Linked DNA regions of Homo sapiens: region 1 is linked to region 2. Evidence: fine-mapped expression QTL. A gene starts in region 2. The other region holds a variant in brackets. All regions are shown on one strand. Distances are between the middles of the regions.

Region 1 (10,706 bases), 97 kb after region 2:
AAATACAATAATTAACTGGATATGGTGGTGGGCGCCTGTAATCCCAGCTCTCGGGAGGCTGAGACAGGAGAATCACTCGTAACCGGGGGGCGGAGGTTGCAGTGAGCCAAGATCACACCACTTAACTCCAGCCTGGGCAAAAGATCAAGGCTCTGTCCCATCTCCCCCACCCCCACCCCGCCAAAAAAAAGATTCTAGTGTAACAGATGTTTTCCTAAAGATTCTTTCCCAGTAAGGAAAATCTGGACATCTGTAACCAGTTTCCAGATCCAGAATTTCCAAATAATTTCATCAAAATACTAGATACACTTAATAAAAACTAAAACAGAAAACAAAACTCCTACATGATAGAGAAACTTTGTTTTGATAATTTATGTTACATGTTTTATTCAATATCAAAATGTGCTGCATTTATAATTTTTAAAGTGTCTTTAAAACGTATTTTGTTGTTCCAAACAAGTGAAATGTTTCAAAACATATACAAACACACACACATTTCACAACTTACTGATCTGCCACTAAGAACGTCACATTCATTAGCCCACAGATTACTTATAAGCCACCATAAAAGTATCCTGTTGGCCGGGCACGGTGGCTCACGCCTGTAAACCCAGCATTTTGGGAGGCCGAGGCGGGCGGATCACCAGAGGTCGCGAATTTAAGATCGGCCTGGCTAACATGGTGAAACCCCATCTCTACTAAATATACAAAATTAGCTAGGCGTGGTGGTGCGCGCCTGTAATCCCAGCCTCAGAGACTGAGGCAGGAGAATCACTTGAACCGGGAAGGCAGAGATTACGGTGAGCGGGGATCGTGCCACTGCACTCCAGCCTGGGCAAAAGAGTGAGACTCAGTCTCCAAAAAAAAAGTCTCCTGTTGCTCCAAAAATGATTCCAAACTTGGAAATAAGTAAAAAAGATAACTGGGTGACCTTTGATCATGCTAAGCCCCATCTAATGTGAGTAGGGTCTAACATTGTTTGACTTACTAGTACTAATTAATCAGTGACCCAGACCCATTCTAGTCTATAAAATTAGAGTTCATCTCTGTAGAGTTCATCTCTGTAAGTTATAATGATATTTGTTCCTCTAAGTAATAACATAACTCAAAGGTTATGATGTAATTCCCCTGTAGGACATTAAGCAGTTTTACATCTAATATAGCAGTCTTATTTCAGCATTCCTTTTTTCACTGACTATACACATTGAATCAGCTTTCTTATCCTGCCAGTTCCCTCATAAATGAATTGAATAAAGCCTTGACACATGCATCTATTTGTATGAGAATTATCTTTATAGCAGTTTGGAAATTATGCCTTGATACTCTATCAGCATGTAACAGAATATGAAATAGCAGAATGATCCCATTTTAAACAAATGAGTCTGTCTTAGTTTGGTTTCCCAAGAAGTAAACCCTAGGACATAGATTTGAGTAGAATAGCTTATTTTAGAGGTGCAGGGACTACTAGAAGGGAAGTAAGGAAATGACAGAGGGAATAGCAGGCAGCCACCAAAGGGTGGTCATTAAGCCTGCTACCATCCTGGGCAGCGATGCAGCTCAATCCACAGGGAAACTGCAAGACAGAGTAGAAAATATGTGTGTCAGAATTATCCCACTCAAAACTGGGGGAGCTGGGATATTTATACACCAATTCCTATAAGTATTAATTGAAGACTGCTCCTGGGTAGTATCAATTCCCCAGCACTTCCTGCCACCTACATGGCAACTTTTCTCAGTGCTGGAGAAAGTTCTTGTGCATGAAGAGACAGACATAAGCCACGGGAAATCTTGGCATTTTCTGAAATGGTAGCATCCAAGGGATATAGACAGGATACTCAAGACCTTTTTAAAAAAACAAACAAAATAAAACATTTGCATTTAGTGGGAAATAATGTTATACTCAAGGTCACAGAACCCAAGTTCAATGCATCAACTTCCTCATGAAACAAAATAACTCTTTTTTTTTTTTGATGGAATTTCGCTCTTGTTGCCCAGGCTGGAGTGCAATGGCATAATCTCGGCTCACTGCAACCTTCACCTCCCAGTTGCAAGCGATTCTCCTGCCTCAACCTCCCGAGTAGCTGGGATTACAGGCATGCACTACCACGCCCGGCTAATTTTTGTATTTTTAATATAGACAGGGTTTCTCCAAGTTGGTCAGGCTGGTCTCAAACTCCCGACCTCAGGTGATCCATCTGCCTCAGCCTCCCAAAGTGCTGGGATTACAGGCATGAGTCACCACGCCCAGCCTAGGAACTCTTTTTTAACTCTTTTTTCTATGATAAAATATCCAGATTTGATTCTTCATCAAAGGACCTTTCCTCACAATTAGTCAACTGCAAAGTACTCAGAGCACAAGGCAGCTGCTTTTCTAAAAGAAATCTCTATTTCCAGACACTTGAGGGGTCTTGAGTAGTACATTTGCCATCAGAAGTAAATGTATTAACTATATAAGATGGTAAATGATCTTTTTGCAACATGAATGGAAATTATTGGTCAAATATTTCATTGTGTCTTCTTTAAGGTACATTTAGAACTTTTTATAATTAAATAGAAGCCTTTACAAAGTATTGGCCTAAATCCTAAATTATTTTCAAAAGTATTGATTTAACATGGTTTAAAAAAAAAAAATGGCCTGGCACGGTGACTCACACCTCTAATCCCAGCACCTTGGGAGGCCGAGGCAGGTGGACCACCTGAGGTCAGGAATTCGAGACCAGCCTGGCCAACATGGTAAAACCCCATCTCTACTAAAAATACAAAAAACTAGCCAGGCGTGGTGGCAGGCTCCTGTAATCCCAGCTACTCAGAGGGCAGAGGCAGGAGAATTGCTTGAACCCAGGAGGCGGAGGTTGCAGTGAGCCTAGATCACACCATCGCACTCTAGCCTGGGGGACAAGAGCGAGACTTCATCTCAAAAATATATATATATTATATATATATAAAATATATATATAATATATATAAAATATAATATATATAATATATAATATATATAATATATTATATATAAAATATATAATATATAATATATATAATAAAATATACATAATATATAATGTATAATAAAATATACATAATATATAATATATAATAAATATATAATATATAATATATAATAAAATATATAATATATAATATATAATAAAATATATAATATATTATATATAATAAAATATATAATATATTATATATAATAAAATATATAATATATTATATATAATAAAATATATAATATATTATATATAATAAAATATATAATATATTATATATAATAAAATATATAATATATTATATATAATAAAATATATAATATATAATATATAATAATATATATAATATATAATATATATAATAAAATATATATAATATATAATATATATAATAAAATATATAATATATAATATATATAATAAAATATATATGATATATAATATATATAATAAAATATATGATATATAATATATATAATAAAATATATAATATATAATATAATATATAATATATATACTAAAAAATATATAATATATAATAAAAAATATATAATATATAATATATATAATATATAATAAAATATATATAATATATGATATGTATAATAAATATATAATATATATAATAAAATATATATATATTTTTTTTCACCTTACAAGAGGATTTCTTGGCCTGGTACCATGGCTCACACCTATAATCCCAGCACTTTGGGAGGCCGAGGCGGGCAGATCACGAGGTCAAGAGATTGAGACCATCTTGGCCAACATGGTGAAAACCCGTCTCTACTAAAAATACAAAAATTAGCTGGGCGTGGTGGTGGGCGCCTGTAATCCCAGCTACTCGGGATGCTGAGGCAGGAGAATTGCTTGAACCTGGGAGGCGGAGGTTGCAATGAGCCAAGATCGCGCCACTGCACTCCGGCCTGGCGACAGAGCAAGACTCTGTCCCAAAAAAACAAAAAACAAAAATTAGCTAGGCATGGTGGCGGATGCCTGTAATCTCAGCTACTCGAGAGGCTGAGGCAGGAGAATTGCTTGAACCCAGGAGGCGGAGATCGTGCCACTGCACTCCAGCCTGGGCAACAGAGCGAGATTTCATCTAAAAAAAAAAAAGGAGGACTTCTAGATACCCAAAAAAAAAAAAGGAAGGAAGACTATGAGGCAGGAGAATTGCTTGAACTCAGTGACTCGAGATTGTGCCACTGCACTCCAGCCTGGGCAACAGAGCAAGATTCCATCTCAAAAAAAAAAAAAAAAAAGGAGGACTTCTAGATACCAAAAAAGAAGGAAGACTATGGACCACACCATCAGATTTATAAAAGAGAAACTTCCATGTTCCTGGGTTGCTAAAAAGCCCCATTGTGAGCCTGGGGGAACTTTATGAATGGTCCAGCTCAGCTGTGCTGCTCTGAGGCCTCTGAAGATCCACACTGAGGCCACACCGGCATGGTACTATGTCCTGTGCACTCAGAGAGTGAGCAAAAATACCTCCCCTC[A/T]AGTGACATGGGCACAAAATTAAAACTACTTCAACTCAAATTCTTGCTCAGGATGTTCTCTATTTGTTTCCTGAACACCAGATTATCTGGGTCAAAAACCAAGCCTCCAGCCTATAACTAGAAAATGAGGGTTCCTCAGAGTTCTACCCAAATCACAAGGGCATGATCTCCCACGCCACCTTCTTTGCATTGCTACATGCACATATGCAAACACATACACTGCAACCAGAACTCAGGATTTCCCCTTAAGTCCCCTTCCTCTCTCCCCAGGTATTTCTGAAATGGGAACTCCATGTAGGCCCATGCAACACTGTCAGCTGCAGGTGCCCACAGCAGCTACCCTGTTCTTCTGCCTGGCTCCCACACCATTTTCTGTGAGTAGCTGTCATCAGCCTCACCCCCTCCCAAGTTTCACAGAGAATCACTAGAAAATAATTCCTTTAGTTTCTTCTAACCAAAGAGACCAAGATGGGAAGGAGATCTATACCATCTATACCATTCAGCACTCCTCCTCCCGCTTCTTCTCCTTCTGCTCCTTTTTTTTCTCCCCCACCTCCTCTCTTTCTTTCTCCTGCTCCTCTCAACCTGGCCCTCAACCATAACTCTTCTCTCCTTCCTGAGTTACAGAGCTGAAGTTTCCTGGCACATCGAGGGATGCAAAGAGTTACAAATGGCAGTGGGAGAAAGAGCCTTTAATACATCTTTCAGCGGTGCTGACCTGCAGCCAGAATTTACCAGCCCTTCCTCTGTTCTAGTGCCATTGATCACCAAAGCAACAAGAAATATCTGAACTAGAGGGAGCCACTCCAGTTTATCTGATTTCTAAGTTGCTATCACTCAACAAAAATCCTAATATAAATCAGGCACTGTGTAATGTGGGTGTCCTAAGATCAACATAACTTTTTTCTTCTTATTATTATTACTACCTTAGTTCAGACCACCAACACCCCCTCTCACCTAAATTACCTCGATGCCTCCATTTTCCCCAACCCCAACATATTCTCATATGGTTCCCAGAATAATTTGTCCAACAAAACATTTGATGGTGTCAATGTTGTAAAGAAAAGCGAGTTATCTTTTAAAATCTTTAATACATTCCCTCAGAACTCACAGCAAAGTCCTAACATGGTAAAGCTTAAAAGACCCTTTGTGATCTACCTTCTGCTCATTTTTCCAGGCTCATCTCTTGTCCCTGGCCTCCCTGGAGATGTCCAGAGATGCCCCCTTCTCTCTACTCATGCTTCTCACAATTACAGGAATATGCTCTTCTCATCCCTTCATCTGTTAATTCTCATTAGTCTTCAAAGTCTTAGCCTAGGCATGAATTCCTGTAGGAAGCGTCCTCTGACTCAAGGCTGGGTTAGAGTCCCTCCTGGAGTTGACACCTTTGGAAGTATCTAATTAGCCCATGAGCCACACCTCCTTCTTTAAGAACTGAGCCTCACTTGCCCACTCCCCCAATTTACAGTCACTGGCCCCAGAGCCATGTTTTTACTATGACCTTGCCAATTAGACAAGGGTTAAACCCTTCATTGAAGGGGGACAAATTAGATTCCCCTCCCCAAGAATTTGGCATAGGGGCAGGCCATCCAGCCTCCTGGTCAGGCTTCAACATGTAAACCCAGGAATGAGCTGTGGGATGGTCATATCCCTCTGTGGGGACAAAGAAGCATGAGGCCAGGCTGCAGAGAAAAATGCAGCCCACCAGCAGAGAAAGACTACTTCTGGGGCTCCCAGTGGCTCTCCAGTTCCTGGTTCTATAATAGTCCTATTTGACATACTGCTACATTTTTATTTTTTTAACTCCTCTCTTTTGTTTAAGAGAGCTCAGTTGTTTTTTGTTTCTCTAAGCCAAAGTCTTAACTAATACATCCTTCTTGTGCTCATTTACCACATGCTTCAATGGCCTGTTCACTAGTTTGTATCTTTCATTGAAAGTTGTAACCTCCTTAAGGACAAAGATTATGTTTTATTCGTTATTGTTGTATCTCAAACACAGTGTTTGATACATCATAGGTATTCAAAAATTGTTTATTGAATCAAGGTCATAGTGAATACTTATTGCATACTGATTATGTACCAGGCACTATTGTATTCACTCATTCAATTCTCACAAGAAGAAAAAGTAATTACTGTTTTGTTTTGTTTTGCTGATGGACTCTCGCTCTATCACCCAGGCTGGAGTGCAGTGGCGCCATCTTGGCTCACTGAAACCTCCGCCTCCCGGGTTCAAGCAATTCTCTGCCTCAGCCTCCTGAGTAGCTGGGATTACAGGCATGTGCCACCACGCCCAGCTAATTTTTGTATTTTTAGTAGAGACAAGGTTTCACCATCCTGGCCAGGCTTGTCTTGAACTCCTGACCTCGTGATCCACCTGCCTCGGCCTCCCAAAGTGCTAGGATTACAGGCATGAGCCGCAGTGCCCAGCGCTAATTACTGTCTTTTTATACCTACTTTACAGATCAGAAAATTAAGGTGCAGAAAAGTTACTAGCCCAAGACCACAAAACTAGCAAATGGAATTTAAGTCTATGCAATTTAAGTGGGATTTAAGACAAGCTGGGAATTAAGTCTATGCAATCTGACTCCAGAGACCATGCTCTTAAGGAGGCCTCGCCCTGCTTAACAGAAATAAGAGAGAAGGGATGCAGGACACAGTGCCTTTCCCAGAGTAGCTTATAGCATTCTTTTCTATCTTTCCTATGGTTTTCATGGTTTCGTGACACCCATTTGGTACTGTATCTTATGCAGTCATGTTGTGTCTAGAATTGGTGGGTTCTTGGTCTCGCTGACTTCAAGAATGAAGCCGTGGATCCTCACAGTGAGTGTTACAGTTCTTAAAGATGGTGTGTCCGGAGTTTTTTCATTCTGGTGGGTTTGTGGTCTCACTGACTTCAGGACTGAATCTGCAGATCTTCACGGTGAGTGTTACAGCCCTTAAAGGTGGCCCGTCTGGAGTTGTTTGTTCCTCCTGGTGGGTTCATGGTCTTGCTGGCTTCAGGAGTGAAGCTGCAGACCTTCACAGTGAGTGTTACAGCTCATAAAGTTAGTGTGGACCCAAAGAGTGAGCAGCAGCAAGATTTATTGCAAAGAGTGAAAGAACAAAACTTACACAGCGTGGAAGGGGACCCGAGTGGGTTGCCGCTGCTGGCTAGGGTGGCCTGCTCCTTTATTTGGCCCCACCTACATCCCTACACCCTGCTGATTGGTCCATTTTACAGAGAGCTGATTGGTCTGTTTTGACAGAGTGCTGATTGGTGCATTTACAAACCTTTAGCTAGACACAGAGTGCTGATTGGTGCATTTACAAACCTTTAGCTAGACACAAAAGTTCTCCAAGTCCCCACCCAACTAGCTAGACACAGAGTGCTGATTGGTGTGTTTACAATCCTTTAGCTAGACAGAAAAGTTCTCCAAGTCCCCACTTGACCCAGAAGCCCAGCCAGCTTCACCTCTTAATCCCCCCCTAAACAGGACACCCCAACTGCTGTTGGGAATTTGGCTGATGACCGCTCTAGCTACTTCCTGCTGGATAGGGGTGAAGAAGGGGCCCTGCAGTTGTAGTGTCCTCCAGAGGGGAACTCTTTAAGCCAGTGGAAGGGCCAGTGGGTTGGTCCAGGGGTCCTCAGTAGAAGTTGTTAGTTGAACTCATTTGGGGTTCCATTTGTAAGACCATCTGTAGCTTGATGGCCTTAATTCTAGGGGAAACAAATTTGACAAGGAGGTTAAAAACACAGGGCCTGAAGGCAAGTAATAGCAAGATGGCTACCACGGGACCTAGAAAGGGGAGAAGCCATGTTGCCCAACTCCAGAGGTTGGTATAAGAATTGTGAAAGGTGTTTTCTGATTTCAGAAGCCTTTTCCTGTAATTGCTGGGCAGCATCTCATACTATCCCTGACTGGTTAATGTAAAAAGAACACTCTTCCCCTAAGAAGGTTCAGAGTCCTCCTTTCTCAGCAGTGAGGAGGTCTAGGCCTCAATGGTTTTGGAGAGTCACTGCTGCCAAAGAATCTATTTGGGATTGTAGAGTAAGGATAGATTTCATTATTTCTTGCAAACTGTCTGAGAAAGCCTTTGAGAGTGTGTGGTAGTAAGATAATGCATGTTACACTGTTAACTTTTAGCAAACTCTACTTTAGTAGAAAACCTTGTAAGTTTGGAATTTTAATTTTTCTTTGCTATTAATAAAACCTCATTCAGTCCATATTAACTTAGAATTGGTATAGATGTCTCCTTCCTGATTCTGTAAGTACTTTAAGATTTGGTTTAGTGCAAACAACTCACACATTTGAGCAGACCAATTATTAGGCAATTTTCCTAACTCTGCTTCTACAAGAGTTTCCTTAACATTTACTGAATACCCATTGTGTCTTTTTTCCTTAATCGCCCAGGAGGAACCATCTATCCTCCTGTCCTAAAGGGAGTTCCTCCTCTGTCTGGTCGGACCTTCAGATTTAGATCCCCTGTTAGGAAACCTGCTGGGTTAAGGATTTTTGATAGGAAGGCTACGGGTTGTCAGTGGCCTCAGTGCTTTCGGGCTACCCCCTTGTTTACACTAACAAGGTGGTATTGGAGTGTTATAGGGTCACAGAGAAGACCTTCAATTATCAATTATAGGTTTTAAATTTACCCTGGCTTTTAAAGGAATACGGTATACTGTTTTTTCTTTACTACTTCCATCTCCCTTTCTTTCTCTTTGACTTATTCATCTTTCACTTTCTCACTCCCTCTTTGTCTGTCTTTTCCTCTCTTTCTTTGACTTTCTATGTCTTTCTCTCGCGTTCTCTGTCTCTCTCTTTGACTCCTTCTCTTTGTCTCTCTGTTTCTTCCTCTCTTTTTTCTCTGTCTCTTTCTCTCTTTCCTTTCTGCTGGTCTTTCCCTGACTCTGCTAGCTGCTTATGCTGCTGTTCTCCCTTCTCCTTCCCCTTTTTGATGGCTTTGGCAGTGTAAGACTGCCAAATCCTTGGGTTTTTGCACTGTGTGCAATAACTCTGTGATTTCCTTGTGGTATTTAATGGGGGTCCTCCAGAGGTTAGGAACTCCCTTTCTTTCCATATTGCAGCATGGGCATCTAGGATTAGATAAGCATACTTGCTATCTGTATACACATTTATTCTTCTTCCATTTCCCAGTTCTAAGGCTCAGGTAAGTGCCACTAGTTCTGCTAACTGGATGCTGGTCCCTGGGGGAAGAGGCTTACTTTCAAGTATGTTTACATCACTAACTATGGCATAACCTGCCCTTCGTATCCCATTCTCCACAAATGAACTTCCATCAGTATATAGGTTAAGGTCAGGATTAGCTAAGGGGACTTCTAAGAGATCATCTCAGGTGGCATAAATCTGCACTATAATTTGTTGGCAGTCATGCTCGACTGGTTCCCCATCCTCTGGGAGAAAAGTGGCAGGGTTGAGGGCCATGCATGTATGTATTTGAAGCACTGGTCCCTCAAGGAGTAGTGCCTGGTATCTAAGTAGGCAGTTGTCTGATAGGCATAAACTTCCTTTGGCACCTAGTATGCCATTTACATCATGAGTAGTCCAGACAGTGTGATCCTTTCCTTGTATTATTTTGATAGCCTCTGACACTAAGACAGCCACCGCTGCAACTACCCTTAAACAGTGAGGTTAGCCTTTTACTACTACATCAGTTTCCTTACTTAGGTATGCCACTGGTTGTGGGGTTGTCCCACGAGTCTGAGTAAGGACCCCAAGAGCTATTCCTCCTCTCTCTGTGACATATAAAGAGTTTTTTCCTGTGGGAAGACTTAAAGCTGGAGCTTGTACTAGGGCCTGCTTTAAGGTTTTGAAGGCTGTTTCTGCCACTGGTTCCCATTCTACTAGATGAGTATTTGCTCTCTGGGTCTCCTTGATTAGAGTATAGAGGGGCCTGGCTATCTCGCTGTATCCAGGGATCCATAGTCAGCAAAAGCCAGTGATTCCAAGGAACCCCCACAACTGTTTTAATGTCTTAGGGTGAGGATAAGCCAGTATAGGCTGTATTTGTTCCTTGCTAAGGGCCCTGGTTCCTCTGGCTAAGATTAGGCCTAGAAATTTGACCTGCTGTGGGCAAAGCTGGGCCTTCAACCTAGATGCCTTTTACCCTTGATTAGCTAGAAAGTTCAAGAGTAGCCTGCTGGCATGAGGCTTCCCAACTGGTAGCCAAAAGTAAATCATCCATATACTGAAGGACCAGAGTGCCTGGACTTGAGAAGTGG
Region 2 (10,358 bases):
GTTTGGTTACACGAATAAGTTCCATAATGGTGATTTCTGAGATTTTGGTGCACCCGTTACCCGAGCAATGTACACTGTACCCAATGTGTAGTCTTTTATGCCCCACCCCCACACCAACCCTTTCCTCCAAGTCCCCAAAGTCCATTGAAACATTTTTAAGCCTTTATGTCCTCATAGATTAGCTCCCACTTATGAGTGAGAACATACGATGCTTGGTTTTCCATTCCTGAGTTACTTCACTCAGAATAATGGTCTCTAATTCCATCCAGGTTGCTATGAATGCCATTATTTCATTCCTTTTTATGGCTGAGTAGTATTCCAGAAAATATATACAACATTCTCTTTATCCACTTGTTGATTGATTGGCATTTGAGCTGGTTACATATTTTTGAAATTGTGAATTGTTCTGCTATAAACATGCATGTGCAAGTATCTTTTTCGTATAATGACTTCTTTTCCTCTGGGTGGATACCCAATAGGGGGATTGCTGGATCAAATGGTAGACCTACTTTTAGTTCTTTAAGGAATCTCCACACTGTTTTCCACAGTGGTTGTACTAGTTTGCATTCCCACCAGCAGTGTGAAAGTGTTCTCTTTTCACCACATCCATGCCAACATCTTTTTTTTTTTTTTAATTAAAGGCCATTCTTGCAGGAGTAAGGTGGTATTGCATTGCGGTTTTGATTTGCATTTCCCTGATAATTAGTGAGGCTGGGAAATGCTCTTATATTTGTTTTAAAACTGGCATTGTAGGGCCGGGCGCGGTGGCTCATGCCTGTAATCACAGCACTTTGGGAGGCCGAGGCAGGCAGATTACAGAGTTTGAGACCACCCTGGCCAACATGGCAAAAACCCGTCTCCACTAAAAATACAAAAATTAGCTGGGCATGGTAGCAGGCACCTGTAATCCCAGCTACTTGGGAGGCTGAGGCAGGAGAATCACTTGAACTCGGGAGGCAGAGGTTGCAGTGAGCCAAGACTGTGCCACTGCACTCCAGCCTGGGCAACACAGTGAGACTCCATCTCAAAAAATAACATAACATAACATAACATAACATAACATAACATAACATAACATAACATAACATAACATAACACTGTCATTGTACAACATGAAGATGTATGGTAAAAATCATTCTAATAATTTAAATTATAATCTTTTCTTTGCTTAGAATGACATTAAACAGCAAATAAAAAAATGACAAGTCAAAAGAGATCACAAAATAAAGGAAAAAGTTTTATTTTAATACCTTTAAACAGCACTTTCCTTTTGCTCTTGAACAAAGGGCTCCATATTTTCGTTTTGCATTGGTCCCTGCGAATTATGTAAGTGGCCCTGTTTATCAGTCTAAAAACTGAAAGGAAGTTTCAGTGAGCATGGGAGACTTTCAATTCTTGCCTTACAGCAGCATGGCAGACATTGATAGTTGCTTACCCTATAACTATTCTCTTTCTGCCTTGCTAACAGAAACCCCATTTTTGTTCAGGATGACAGTAAGTGCTGTTTAAGAAATAAAGAAAGATTTAAAAATAAAATACTAATTTCTATTATGATTGTATACTTTCAACTGAATTTATATGTATCTATATATAGATATATATAGATATATAGATACATATATATGTATTTTTGATATAGATTTTTTTAAAGATATAAAAAATTGAAATACTTATTTTTCAACAGGGCACATTTCATTTATCAGTCTCTAATGCATTTACGGAGAACTAAACGACCCAGTTCTAGCTAATGAGATGTAAACCAAAGTTTACTACGTGGGGTTTATGAAAAAGCTGTTTTCTTGATTTAAGGAGTAAGAAGTAGACTCAGTTGGCATGTACTTTTGCCTTTACTTTTCATCCTTTTTCTGCCTTAAAAACATATTTAATGCCTAGAATTACAGGAGCCATCTTGAGACATTAGGATGAAAGCTACATGATAAGAATAGAAAAACAAAAACACAGAAGACTGCCTACCTCTGAACTTCTTAGAGGGTGAGAAAATAAATCAGTATTTGGGTAAGTCACTACAGCTAGGTTTCTGTTACTTGAGCTGAACATAAGCAGTCCTTAATCAATACAGACTAGATAACATGAAAACTCTTCTACTACAAATACTTAGAAATGCTGGGTAAAATGCAGCAAAATAAATTAATTAATTAATAATAATGCATACTTGAGCTTACAAAAAAAAAGACAGGGAAATATTCAGGTGGCAAAAATAAAAAAAGAAACTGGACACCAGGGTCTTGAATACAGAATATGACCCTGTCTGGAGAGGAGAAAGGATTGAATGAGGATGGTGCTTGAATGTTTAAATCCATGAGGTGATAAATGGATTTTAAAAATGTGATATATGTATACAATGGAAAACTATTCAGCCTCTAAAAAGAAGGAAATCCTGTCATTTGTGACAACATAGATGAACCTTAAAGACATTATGTTAAGTGAAATAAGCCAGGCCCAGAAAGATGAATATTGCATGATCTCACTTAAATATGGAATCTAAAAAAGTTGAACTCAATAGAAGCAAAGAGTGGAATGGTGGTTAGCAAGGGCTGGGAGAGAGTGAGGGAGCTGGATGACGCTGGTCAAAGGATATACAATTTCAGTTACATAGGAGGAATAAGTTCAAGAGATCTATTGTACAACATAGTGACTATAGTTAACAACATGTTGTATTCTTCAAAATCACTAAGAACAGACTTTAAGTGTTCTCACCATAAAAATAAGTATGTGACGTAATACATATGTTAAGTCACTCAATTTAGCCATTCCAAGATGTATACATATTACAAATCAGGTTGTATACAATACAGTATATACAATTATCATTTGTCAATTTTCATTAATTTTTTTTTTAAGATGGAGTTTCGCTCTTGTTGCCCAAGCTGGAATGCAATGGCGTGATCTCAGCTCACTGCAACCTCCTCGGTTTAAGTGATTCTCCTGCCTCAGCCTCCCGAGTACCTGGGATTACAAGCACCCACCACCACACCCGGCTAATTTTTGTATTTTTAGTAGAGACAGGGTTTCACCATGTTGGCCAGGCTGGTCTTGAACTCCTGACCTCAAGTTATCCACCCACCTCAGCCTCCCAAAGTGCTGGGATTATAGGCATGAGCCACCGCGCCTGGCCTTTATAATTTTTAAAAATACACGGTAACTTGTGATAAGACCTTGGGCCCTTGGTGCAAACAGAAATCAGTTAACTGTGAGCACACCCTGTCCCCCAACTTCATGACCTCACACACACACATAAGTTAAAAACCCATGAAATTCTGTACCCTCAATGAAAGGGTAGACTAGATAGAAGCTTTTCTTCTGGCATAGTAAGAAGCTTTTCTGTCAAGGCACAAGCTCTGAAAGAGAAAAAAACAAGGAAGATCTCTCTCCCTTGAGAATTTGAATCATAGTTTGTACTCCCACAAATCTGGGTTCAAATTTATAATATCTGAATGATCTTAGAACTTCTAAGCCAAGAAAGAAATTCATGTAAAAATTGCTCACTAGCCAGTGATAACCTTAGGGGTCTCTGACAGAAGAAACATTTTTTTCTGTATCACTAAAAATGAGCCATAAAAAAAAAAGCTAAAAGGAATCAATGTACAAAGCAAAAGGAATCAATCCACAAACAAAAAGGTCATCAAATACACAAATAGAAGTATTAGACCCCTAAATGCAAAAGGATTTATCTATATGATATCATTTATGCAGTTTAAAAATATAACATAGTAGTACCATTCATAGATACATATAAATTCAGTGAAAGTACAAAAACATAACAGATATTAATCATACCAATTTAAAAATAGTGGCTAACTCTGGGGAAGGAATAGTGTCAAGAAAAGCCTGAATAATTGATCCAGACTGAAGGAGAATTGAGCAACAAGCTAACTGGATGCAGCACATGATCTTTCTTGGCTGGGACGTTTTTGCTGTAAAGACATTGGAATAATTGGCAAAGTTTGAGTGGGGTTTCTAGGCAAAGGGTACACAGAAGTTTTTGTACTATTCTTGCAACAGTTTTCTTAGTTTGTAAATTGTTTCAAGTTAAAAAATTTGTTTTTAAAAAGAGGATGAAAATGAAAAATAGGAAACAGTTTCAGAGAAGAAATTGCCAGGATAGACCAATTGGTGGTGGGAAATAAGAGGAAATAATCAAAGGGGACTCAGATTTCTGGCTTAGGTGATTTGGTGTGTATGATTCAATTTATCAATGTAGGAAACCCAAGAAAAGAAGAATTTTCAGGAAAAGCAAACTATAACAGACTTGCCACTGGAAATATTGAATCTATGGATAAATAGTTGGAAATTTAGGCTGGGGGTGATGGTGTCACAAAAGAGCTTAGCACTGTAAACATCTTGATTTGATTACTTTTTTCACTTACTAAATCATTTGGGAATTCACTATGTTGCCTGTGTAAACCATAAAATATATAAAAATAAATAGGAAACGGACACTGCCCTTAAGGGACTGATATCTGGTAAGAGAAGTAGAATCAGTCTGTAGGCAAAGGGTAGAGACTGATGGAGCAAGTTCTAGAGGGTGACAAATTAGTTCTCAACCTTGGTCACACATTAAGAACACCTAGAGGAACTCCTAAAACATCCCAATGCCCAGTCCACACTCTGGGACTGGATCCAGGCATCAGTGGTTGCTTAAACTCTCCAGGTGATGCTGATGTGCAGCCAAGATTAAGGGAGCAGTGGCTCTACTCAGAACACCTGAGACACCTATTCCTTTGAAACATTTGGCAATGATGCAGGAAAGAGTGTGGAGAGAACAGGAGGTGGAAATAAGGAAATTTGGTTGAAGAGGCTTCTGCCAAACAGAGTGATGATTTATATTTTCTCTGTAAAGAAAGCGAATCAGCTGGGTGCGGTGGCTCACACCTGTCATCCCAGCACTTTGGGAGGCTGTGGCAGGCGGATCACTTGAGGCCAGGAGTTCGAGACCAGCCTGGCCCACATGGTGAAACTCTGTCTCTACTAAAGATATAAAAAATTAGCCGGGCGTGGTGATGCATGCTTGTAATCCCAGCTACTTGGAAGGCTGAGGCAGGAGAATCCTTGAACCCAGGAGGCAGAGGTTGCAGTGAGCTGAGATCACACCATTGCACTCCAGCCTGGGTGACACAGCAAAACTCTGTCTCAAAAAAAAAAGTGTCAAAGGCTAAGAATAAGGATATATGAAAATAAGGTAAGTCTTTTATGGAGAATGGGGAAACAGGATTACAGCTACAGAGGGTGCAAAAGAAAGAAGTAACATTGTTGTTTTCCCAAGACTGGGAAGATTGAAACACTTGAGGATGAGGATTCAGGGACACCACTGTGTCCACCATTAAAGAATTTCCCCTTTAATGGTGGACACGGTGGTGTGATCCTTTTGTAGAGACGAGCATAGGTTATGGCAAATATACCTACTTTAAAAACAGTGCTCTGGGAAGAGAGTAAGTGCTTTTCCACATAAAGATCTAAAATAGACAATAAATGAGAAATAGGGTTTTTTATTATATATTCATTTTTCCATATTTCTGGAAAATGAAACAGACATGGAGTATTTCAAAGCTGGGAGAGATCATTATATTGGAGTTACCTTAGAAAGAGGGGGCTGTTTCTGCCACCACAACAAAGAATGAAACAACACAAATATTTACGTTTTCTTCTTGTCCTCATAATGCTTTTACTGCACTCGTCTTTCAACCTTTAACATCTACTGCATCTGTGACTGTTGTTTCAGTAAAACACGGAAGCTTGAATGTAAGCTCATTTCATTGCCTGCTGCACAACCACACAAAACAGCATTTTCTTATTCTTGAAATATGATAGCAACGTCTCCTTCCATGCTTGTACCTGTTTTAATTCCTTTCAAGCAGAGGCTGTATCGTGAAAGATGCTTAAGAAGTTACTTGGAACGACAGGATTTGGAACGGATGTCACATCATATTCTCATTTGTTATTAAAATTAGTCACGCTTAATTGTTAAGGACTATCCTGTGTCGCTCGCCATCTTTGTGTCCTCCACCTGGCACTTTGCTTTCACACAGTAGGCACATAGCGTTGAGGTCCCGGAAGGTTGTCAAGTAACCGGCCAGGAGCTTGAGGGCAGGACATTGTCTCCGACACTTGATTCAGTGCCTGGCACACAGGAGGTATTCAATTATGCTGAATGAATGAGCAACCGGCTCGGTGGGGGACAGTAAACCCAACCCTATTCCGCGAACGTTTGCTGAGCGGCATCCAGGCCTCAGGGACCAAGTGTGTCGCGCGGTGCCATACCGTGACCGGGACCTGTTATTTCTAATGTCCAGATATTGTAATTCTATGCTGTAACTCCTATATTTCCTCTTAAAACAAAAAGAGAAATGTGGGTCGTGTTCGCTCTGGGTTCTCGTTAAGTGCAAGCATACAGAGGCGCCGAGACCCCGCGGCTCGCCCTCGCCGCTTCCTCCACAGGAGCCGGGCGGAGCTCCCGGCGCGCCCCGGGGCTGCGCCGCCGCAATCCTCAAGGGGTCGCTGTTCCCGCGATAACCTCGAGAAAGGCTCCGCCCCGCGGCCCGCGCTTGTTTTTCCCTTGGGACCCGGGTCCACACGGCGGGGTCGCCCGTCCATCTCCGGCTCGCCCGCGGGGCCCATCGTCGACGTTAGCGGCCGTTCTCCGAGCCGACTGACCCATCCTTGGCGCTGCCGCCGCGCGCTTGTTCTCCTCCCTCGCCCCGCCTTCATCCTCCCCGTTCACGGAAACGACAGCTGCGGCTGCGGGGCTGGCGCCGCCTCCCTCCACCTACCACGTCTGCCCTCGCCGCTCTAGCCCTGCGCCCCAGCCCGGCCGCGGCACCTCCGCCTCGCCGCCGCTAGGTCGGCCGGCTCCGCCCGGCTGCCGCCTAGGATGAATATCATGGACTTCAACGTGAAGAAGCTGGCGGCCGACGCAGGCACCTTCCTCAGTCGCGCCGTGCAGGTACCCTGGTGCTGGGGGGAAAAGGGGTGGCGGCGCCCGGGAAGGTTGAGGGAGGGGACCGCAGCTCGACGCGGCGCCCCCGGGCCTCGCCGACCACCCAGCGGGCCTGCTGCAGCCAGAGGCCTGGGAGATGGGCGCGGCCTGGTCCCCTCCCCGGGCCCGGCGGCGGATTTCTGCCCCGCTCCTGCCCAACCGCCGCTCCCTGGGAAGCGAGGCGGGGTGGGGACGGGGCCGGGAGCTTCCTCCCACCCCTGGGGAACACTAAGGCTGCACTGTCCGCCTTTCTGATACCACGACGTCAGTGCTCCTGTGGCCTCCACCCCGGGGCTGGCGGAGGCTTGCGAGTCCTTTGCGGTAACCGAGACACAGGCCATTCTTGCACTACCCCCCACCCTTTCCTTTCGTCTCTCACCCTCCCCTCGGAGTCCAAGAAGGGAGTTTCCTTTTCCTGTCCTTCAACCCAGAGAGCTGCCAACACAGTTCCCTCCGGCCCTCTTTCTCCCTGAAAGGACTGTCCTGGGCTTGGCAGCCCGCGGGGGAAATGGAGATCGCCAGTTGGCGTTGAGACTTTGCCAAGACCACAAGAAACCTAGGGTTGGGGGGTTTTCACTCTTTTTCAAAATGGGAAGCACCAGCTGTAGATCAAGGAGAGATGCGGGGATATTGTTATGGCTGTAGTCACAGTAGTATGTTTTAAATATACTTTAAGGGGAAAAGTTGACTACCTCTCGATATTCTACAATCAAGGAAGTGTCAGTACTAAGGAACTTGGGCCGTTTCCCACAGTCATCACCCATGTTATGCCAACTCAGTAAATCTGTGAACAGATGTAAATTTCACAACATGAATTATAAACAATCTGGTGTTTACGGTCACGGTAGCAACAACATTCTCTTTTGTAAAAAGAAAACAAAAATAATTTTCTAATATGCATACCAAATTGGTGCTGAAATGTAAATCTGTTCTGTGGCTTTACTACTTTCCTTGCCTTTGCCCCAATTTTGTTGGCACAGTTGATCCTACATTGCACTATCCCTGGCAAAAGAGTAGTAGAGCTAGAGCAAGGTAATAGCTGCCTATATTATGAAAAACCTGTCAAGCACTTTGTAATGCATTTGACATATTATCTCCAGTCTTTTCCATAACTTTGCCAGATAGATGTTATTAACCCCTTTTATATATGTGAGGAAGCAGCCTTACTGAGGTTAAGAAACTTGCACAACTAGTAAATAACCAGGTGCTGTCTGACCTAGTACTCCCAGCTGCTTTTTCTTCCGGGATAAGCATTCCAGATTTAAGATAGCTAGAATAATAGAATGCTGTGGCCTAGAGAGACCTTAAAAATCATCTGGTTCAATCTGAGCATTTCCATATCAACAAGCAAGTAACACTTTAGAGATGGTAAATTCCTTCTAGCTTTTGATTTCTAAGTTCTAAAATCTGCATGGTGAGTAATAAGCTAGCTGCCTTAACCCTTTTCTTCCCTTCCTTCCCTAAAATATGATATATTGTAGACGTTGAGCCTTTATAGTTAAAATAATGTTTTGATTTAAATTCACTAGCTTCTAATAGTTCAAAGACAAGGTGCAAGAAGAATGAGTGATTGAGGGTGTGAAATGAATTTTGATGTGTGAGACACTTGTACACTTTTAACATTGACTGCAATAGAGGACTAGAGCCCTTGGTATTTTTGTTTGTCCTAGTGCTCATTACCTATAATTCTAGATGCTTATGAGGATTTGACACTGTATAATGCTACTCTTTTAAATACAGTTAAATATGTTTCAGACGTATAACTCACACCCCTTAAAGAGGACACATTTACTAGAATTTAGTCTGATTTAAATTGTGGATAGACTCAATTTAAAAAATTAAATCTAGCAAAGCTCTCAAAATGTGTACTTCCCAAAGAATTTTAATTCCTTGTTTCAAATTCTTTAGGAAAAAGTTTTAAATTTTATGCTAATCTGTTAGCCATCAAATAATTTTCTTTTCAGTTTTAAATATTTAAGTGTCTACTGCATGTCTGATGTCTGCTTGTGGCTACTGTGGACACTGGTGATACAGCAGTGAATAAAATCAGCAAAGTGTCTGCCCTCCTGAAGCTTACATTGTAGCGGAAGATAAGCTTGTAAATACATCAGGTGGTGATAAAAATCATGGCCAGAAGAATAGAATAACGCAGAGATGGTGGTTGTTAATATCTTTATTAGTATTTTCTAACATTAGTATCGTGTATAGATAGGATGGTCAGGGCAAGTCTTTCTAATAGGATGAAATTCAAGAGACCTCAAGGAAGTGACAGACCTAGTTTTTTTTGGAATAAAAGTATTTCAGGCAGCAGGAAGAAGTACAAAGACTGAAGTTTCAGGGGCATTAAGGAGACCAATGAAGGAGCTGTGGCCATAATACACGTAAAAGGCGATTGTAACTTAGATTACAGTGGTAGCAGTGAAGGTTCCAAATTATCCAGTATTGGCTGTTGGATTGGCTGTGAGGTATGAGAGAAAGATGAGTTAAGGATGACTCCAAGGTTTTGGCTTGAGCCGTTTATTAAGGGAAAAATTTTAGGAGAAACAGACTTCTTTAATGTGTCTGTAATTGTTAGAGATACATACTGAAATGTTTATGGATAAACTTATATCATATCTGAGATTTGGTTTTTACAGGGTATTTTTTTTTTTTTTTTTTTTTGAGATGGAGTTTGGCTCTTGTTGCCCAGGCTGGAGTGCAATGGCGCGATCTCAGCTCATTGCAACCTTCGCCTCCCCGATTCAAGCCAATCTCCTGCCTCCGTCTTTCAAGTAACTGGAATTACAGGCAGGCTCCACCACGCCCAGCTAATTTTGCATTTTTAGTAGAGATGGGGTTTCACCATGTTGGTCAGGCTGGTCTTGAACTCCTGACCTCAGGATCCACCTGCTTCGGCCTCCCAAAGTGCTGGGATTACAGGTGTGAGCCACCACACCAGTTGAGATTAGCGTTTGAATATTTCAAAAGAAAAAAACAGAAGTCGCTGAAACAACAGCAACGGAATGTTGATAGTTGTGGAAGGTTGGTTATGGGTTCATGAGGTTTCATTATACTGTTATACTTTTGTATGTTTGACATTTTCCATAATACTTTTTTAAAGATAAAATTTGTAAGAAAAAAAGGATGCTTCTAAAATAGAACATGTGAAATTTGGAATGCTGTGTGGTAGTTTTCAACAAAACACTGCTTTCTCATCTCAGTATTTATTTCATCACTGAGTTCCTACATTAAATTGCATTGACATCAGTATAATGCCAAAGTACCAAGTTTCATGCTAAGAATAGCTTAAGAGCTATGCCAATATCTCTTTATAAGCAGTAAGAACAGTAGAGAGAGAAACATTCACGTTTATAAATAATAATTT

The links. PIP is the estimated chance that this variant, and not a neighbour inherited with it, causes the effect.
Region 1: its variant is fine-mapped to the expression of SH3GLB1 in whole blood (INTERVAL, PIP 0.98).

The regions. Positions count from the first base shown.
Region 1 is chr1:86,794,373-86,805,078 of GRCh38, forward strand. No RefSeq gene overlaps it. Among named protein-coding and RNA genes, the nearest start is that of SH3GLB1, 95 kb to the left of the region's middle. The variant A/T (reference allele first, on the strand shown) is at 4,490.
Region 2 is chr1:86,698,011-86,708,368 of GRCh38, forward strand. SH3GLB1 (SH3 domain containing GRB2 like, endophilin B1) reads left to right here and starts at 6,566. Exons shown (of 9, transcript NM_016009.5): 1 at 6,566-6,961. The coding sequence starts at 6,890. It overlaps CLCA4-AS1 (CLCA4 antisense RNA 1), which reads right to left and starts at 6,483. Exons shown (of 5, transcript NR_135837.1): 1 at 5,597-6,483. RefSeq lists enhancers at 5,770-5,839, 6,404-6,905 and a silencer at 6,730-7,219.